2 linked regions of the Homo sapiens genome follow. The protein of the gene in region 1 interacts with the protein of each later gene in a pairwise test. Each region holds a gene or a part of one and is shown in the gene's direction. Other genes may lie near its edges.

Region 1 (2,637 bases):
GAGGGCCCAGCTTCCAGCACAGCTGGTTTCAGGAGTGGGTGGACTCAAGTCTGAGGACCTCTCTCCCTGTGCTGCTTCCTCCTCCCAGGCCTCCGTTTCCCCTCCGGATGGGCGGTCCTGTACAGGCCTTCACAGATGCCCCTGTGGAGTTCTGGTCCAGTGGGGTAGATGAGGCCAGGGTGGTGAGAGGCAGCCAGCATCAGGGCCTGAGCGACTGAGTGCACCTGTGGCCTCAGAGACCCCTGCACACTGGGTGGGCTGTGGGAGGGAAGCCCTGGTCCCTGGTAGCATTGGGGTCCTTTCCTGTTGGGAGCTTTTACCAGCTGCTCTGGCAGTTCCCAACAGAGAATGCCCACTGTGCCAGCATGAGCCTTTACTGTAGTTCTTTCCATCTTGGAGGGGTGGCAGGGGCAGCTTGGCACAGTGGCTCACGCCTTTAATCCCAGCACTTTGGGAAGCTGAAGTAGCCTGATCGCTTGAGCCCAGGAGTTTGACACCAGCCTGGGCAACATAGGGAGGCCTGGTCTCTAAAAAAAAATACAAAAACTATCTGGGTGTGGTGGGCACACCTGTAATCCTAGCTACTCTGGAGGCTAAGGAGGATTGATTGAGCCCGGGAGGCTGCAGTGAGCTGTGATGGCGCCACTGCACTCCAGCCTGTCTCAAAAAAAGAAAAAAAAATGGTATTTTGAGAACTGGTATAGCCTTACCGACGTAGATGGGGGACCCTCCCCTAATCCTGTAGAGGCTGCAGGTCTGCGCAGCCACCCTTTGGGTGAGTGCCAGGTGCACGCCTTGCATCCCGGCAACTTCGTGGGGTCGGGGCAGGCAGGGGCAGGCAGGGCCAGGCCTCGCTGACCGCGCCATGTCCCGCAGGTTCTCGCGCTCTGACGAGCTGTCGCGGCACAGGCGCTCGCACTCAGGTGTGAAGCCGTACCAGTGTCCTGTGTGCGAGAAGAAGTTCGCGCGGAGCGACCACCTCTCCAAGCACATCAAGGTGCACCGCTTCCCGCGGAGCAGCCGCTCCGTGCGCTCCGTGAACTGAAAGCGCCCTGAACCCCAGCCTGTCCGTCACCCCGGATCCCCACCCCATCCCCATTTTTTTAAGCAATAATTTATTTGCCTCCTCCAGAGGGACATGGCAATGTTACCAGCCCACCTTCTGAAGCCTGGGAGGTGTGAACCCAGGGCCCGCCAACCGCTGCCTTTCTCGGGAGTACTTAGAGCCTCGAACCCGCGTCCCTGGGGGCTGGGCCCCAGGCGCACGGGGCTGGAGGCAGGCCTTCGTGCCTTCGTGCCTTCGTGCCTTCCCGCGGTGGCCAGGCCTCTGCTGCAGCCGCTGGTTGCAGGCAGAGTTTTGGGGACCTGGCCCTTCTCCCACTGGGCTCCCCCATCCTGGGCCAAGGCCAGAACTTTAGTGCTAGGGGAAGATGAAATGTGCAGTTTTGAAATGTTGGGTTTCCAGAGAGAGTCATGCTGGAGGAGAAGGAAGTAGGCCAGAAGTCCAGGGCTGCACTGTGGTGTGAGGGTGGCTTTGTCTAAGATGCCTGCTCAGCATGATCACCAGAGGGTGTGGGCAGGTCCCTGGAGCCGGGGGGGGGGGGGGGGGGGGGGGGGGGCAGGACCGGGCCGCTGGGCCCTCATGTGGGAGAGAGGTGAAAAGCGTCCCCCACTAGGGGGCTGGCAGTGCATGTGCTTGAGTTAAATGTGCAGGGCAGACAGAGCCAGAAGGGCCTGTACCCAGGGGCTCGTCCCCTCCTCCGGTTTCCCAGACAAATCCAGACACCAGCCTTTAGGGTGGCCTTGGGAGGAGAGGGCCAGGCTGTCCTGGGTGTGAGAGAACTAGATAGAGCCTCCCAACCCTGATTTAGAAATGCATTCCTTATTTTGTCTAGAAATTAATAAATGAACTAGCTTGTTTTGACAGGTTTATTTCACATCCTATGAATGTATGTAAATAAACTGTACATAGGTCCATCCACATAAAATATCTTTTAATAACATATCAACATTTGTGTAAATTTGAAATTTAAAAAAATCTATGAAGCTGGTGTACATATGTTACAATTACGTATATTTTCTTTGGTCCTTCATAAAAATATATTTACTTTGCCAATAAAAAGAAAAAGAACTCACAGCTTTTGGCATTCATGTGCTGTTTTCCTGCTTTGCCGGGATGTGGAGGTGACTCTGGGGCCGAGTCTATGTCTCCACCTTCGCAGAGTTCAGGGAACTCTGTTTTGTATTTGGAGGGATAGAAAGGCCCCTTGGGGTCCAGCCCCGGTCCAGCAGGGTAGGGTTCCCATACAGCTCAGCTCCAGGCCAGCTGCTGAGATTCTGCTCATCCCGGCTCCCTGACCTGGAGCTCCGTAAACCCAAATCCAGCCCACATTCCGACAGCACCTGTGGGAAGCTGCCTCAGGCCTGGCCAGTCCTGCGAGGCTCACCTACTCTGCTATCGGAGACCCTTTCTTGCACTTCCTACCCCCATCCAGTCCACCAAACCTATTACACATGCCCTATATGTTTGCTGTGCCTTGGCAGAGTATTTACCCCCTTAGGAACGTGGCTGTGCCATTTCCTACTGGCGTGGGTAATTGTGAAAGTGTTAGGAATCCTGAGCAGGCAGAGGTGAGA
Region 2 (3,500 bases), on another chromosome or scaffold:
GACAAAGCAACAAAAGATCCATCTCGAGTTGGAGATTCTCAGAATCCTCTTCTGAGTGATGGAGATTTGTCTACCATGATTGGCAAGGTAATAAGTCCATTTGGCAGGAAATACCAATTGCAGAGTGACCATAGACCTGAGAGTTTGGGAACTTTGCAAAAGTATCAGTCACTGCACCAGTGGGGAATCTTGACCTGTCTAATAAGATTTGCCAGTAATATCATTGTGAATGATGGCTAACTTGTGTGTGTATTCCATCTTAAAGTGGGGAAGACCATTAAATCAAAATTATAAAGCCTTTATATCAGGCCTTTTTTCATAAATGACATTTTCTGTACACACAAAAAATGAGTGTAGTGTGGCCTTCATGAGTTAATATTGATATGTTCTTTGAATATCAAGAATGTCTTCTCAGCTGGGCATCATGGCTCACACCTGTGATCCCAGCACTTTGGGAGGCCAAGGCAGGCGGATCACAAGGTCAGGAGTTCGGGACCAGCCTGGCAAATATGGTGAAACCCCATCTCTACTACAAAAAAAAAGGAAAATAGAAAAATTAGCCAGGCTTGGTGGCGGGCACCTGTAGTCCCAGCTTACTCGCGAGGCTGAGGCAGAAGAATTGCTTGAACCCAGGAGGCGGAGGTTGCAGTGAGCCAAGATCGCGCCACTGAACTCCAGCCTGGGCAACAGAGTGAGACTCTGTCTCAAAAAAAAAGAAAAGAATGTCTTCTCTTTTCTCTCTATACCACTTAAGATAAATGGGAGGTTAGTGTAACCTCTTTTCTGATATTAGTGAATTTATGACTTACCTAACTTTACATTCCTTATCTGTAAAATGAGAATAAGAGTACTTATAGAGTTTTTGAGGGTTTCATGAGAATGTATGTAAAGTATTTATATAACATGTATTGTATACTGTGTGCTCAGTCAGTGGTAGCTGCTATCATTGTGTAAGGCAATAGTATAGTTTTCTTGGCAGCCTGATTCTCACTCTGTTATCCGAGTTGGAAGTAATAGTGACGGTATTACTGAGGGCTAATCAAGGAAGTATACACCATTTTATAACTTCATGTATACTATTGCATAGTCTCTTTTTTTTTTTTTTCCAAAAAAGTCTTGTTTAAAATCTGTCTGGCTGGGCACAGTGGCTCATGCCTGTAATCCCAGCACTTTGGGAGGCCGAGGTGGGTGGAGATCAGGAGTTCAAGACCAGCCTGGCCAAGATGGCGAAACCCCGTCTCTACTAAAAATACAAAAAGTAGCTGGGCATGATATGATGGTGGGCACCTGTAATCCCAGCTACTCAGGAGCCTGAGGCAAATAATTGCTTGAACCCGGGAGGCGGAGGTTGCAGTGAGCTGAGATCGCGCGACTGCACTCCAGCCTGGGCAACAGAGTGACACTCTTGTCCAGGCAGGTCTTGAACTCCTGGTCTTCAGCAGTCCTCCCGCCTCAGGCACCCAAAGTGCTGGGATTACAGGCATGAGTTTACCATGCCGAACCCTGTATAGTCTGTTTTGTTTTTGAGACGTTCTAACACTGTCGCTAAGGTGGGAGTGCAGCAGTAGCTTGATCTCGTCTCACTGCAACCTCCACCTCCCAGGCTGAAGCGATCCTTCCACTTCAGCCTCCCAAGTAACTGGGACCACAGGTGTGGGCCACGACACATGGCTAATTTTTGTATTTTTTGTAGAGACAAAGTTTCGCCATGTTGCCCAGGCTTGTCCCAATTCTTGGGCTCAAGTGATCCACCCACCTCGGCCTCCCAAGGTGCTGGAATTACAGGTGTGATCCACCATCCCTGGGCAAGATAGAAATATTTTTAAGCTGCTAGATTTATCACATAATAAATTTCTATGTGTACTTGGGCATATTTCTCAACTTTCTATCTTTTCCTGTCCTGGTCCAGTTAGTCAAATGCCATACAACACTGTTTTAGTATTTAGTAGCACTAGTTTTCCCTCATTGCTCTTTTTCAGCATTTTCTTCGCTAGTCTTTTCCATTTAAAGGTTAAGTTTGTTTCATTTTTTAAAAAAATTTAGGTTTGTTCACTTGCATTTTTTGTACCTTTGGAGTTGATTAAATGATTTTCCTCTTCAGCTCTATTAATATGATGTTTTATGTTATTAGATTCTTTAATATATTTGTGGAACAGTCTCCACTTGGTTGATATTACTGCCTTTTAATACCCTGTTGGATTCTGTTTCCTGTGGGGTTTTTTGGTTTTCTTCTTTTGAGACAGGGTCTCTTTCTGTCACCCAGTCTAGAGTGAAGTGATGTAATCATAGCTAACTGCAGCCTCAAACTCCCAGGCTTAGGTAACCCTCCTGCCTCAGCCTCCTGAGTAGCTGAGACCACAGGCGTGTGCCATCACACTCGGCCTGTTTTGTTTTGTTTTGTTTGAGACAGAGTTTCGCGCTTGTCACCCAGGCTGGAGTGCAATGGCACGATCTCTGCTCACTGCAACCTCCGCCTCCCAGGTTCAAGCGATTCTCCCGCCTCAGCCTCCCAAGCAGCTGGGATTGCAGGCATGTGCCACCACGCCTGGCTAATTTTGTACTTTTAGTAGAGGTAGGGTTTCTCCGTGATCATCAGGCTGGTCTCACACTCCCGACCTCAGGTGATCCGCCTGCCTCAGCCTCCTAAAGTGCCAGGATTACAGGCATGGGCCACTGCGCCTGGCCTGTTTTTTAATATTTAATATTCTCACTGGGGTTTTGGTCAGATTCATTTGCAAATTGACACAGGGAAAATTGGCTTCTTCATAATAAATCTTGTATTCAAAAATTCATAATGCCTTTCCATTTCCTTAGGTATCTTATGTGTCCTTCAGGAGATGTTTGAAAGTTTTCTTCATGAACGTCTCACATGTTTCTCAAGTTTATTTCAAGATTTTTGTTGTTGTTTTAATTGAAAAATTTGCTTTCCTTGTCTTTTAAGTTGGTTGATTGTACTTATGAAGGGTATTGATTTCTATTTATCTTGACCTTGCTGCTTTAATGAATTATTTATAGCAGCTGTTTTTTAGTGATTTTCTTGCATATTCCAGGTGTATAAAGGTACTATCTGCAAATAGTTTATCACATCCTTTCCAATTTTGTACTTCCGGTTTTTCTCTTGCTTAATACTATTGGCTAGTTTTTCCAATCAGTGTTACAAAATGGTAGCAGTAGGAGGTACCTTTGTCTTGTGATTTTGGTGATAATGCTGGTAATGTTTCTCCATTAATCATAGTACTTTCTTTGGGCAGAGGAGAGTGGTTTTCTAATGTAAAGAAGTACTCATTTGTAGCGTCCTATGAGTTTTTATCAAAGACGAATTTTGATTTTGTTCATTTGCCTTTTTAGCGTCTTTGGAGATGATCATGATTTTTCTTCTTACATCTATTAATATAATGTTTTACATTATTTGATTCTCTAATATCTTGTGGAACAATCTCTAGTTGGTCATGATATACTACCTTTTAATATGCTGTTGGATTCTGTTTTCTAGTATTTAA

Evidence for each region. Proteins that work in one complex are often made in the same cells at the same time.
Region 2: the proteins of KLF15 (region 1) and GTF2B interact in binary tests that used the Homo sapiens proteins (3 or more experiments, as listed by UniProt).

The regions. Positions count from the first base shown.
Region 1 is NC_000003.12:126,342,135-126,344,771, reverse strand, and holds the end of KLF15 (Krueppel-like factor 15), read left to right. Parts: intron 1-876; coding exon 877-1,045; 3' UTR 1,046-2,137; downstream 2,138-2,637. UniProt on the Homo sapiens protein: Transcriptional regulator that binds to the GA element of the CLCNKA promoter. Binds to the KCNIP2 promoter and regulates KCNIP2 circadian expression in the heart. Is a repressor of CCN2 expression, involved in the control of cardiac fibrosis.
Region 2 is NC_000001.11:88,860,568-88,864,067, reverse strand, and holds part of GTF2B (transcription initiation factor IIB), read left to right. Parts: coding exon 1-87; intron 88-3,500. UniProt on the Homo sapiens protein: General transcription factor that plays a role in transcription initiation by RNA polymerase II (Pol II). Involved in the pre-initiation complex (PIC) formation and Pol II recruitment at promoter DNA.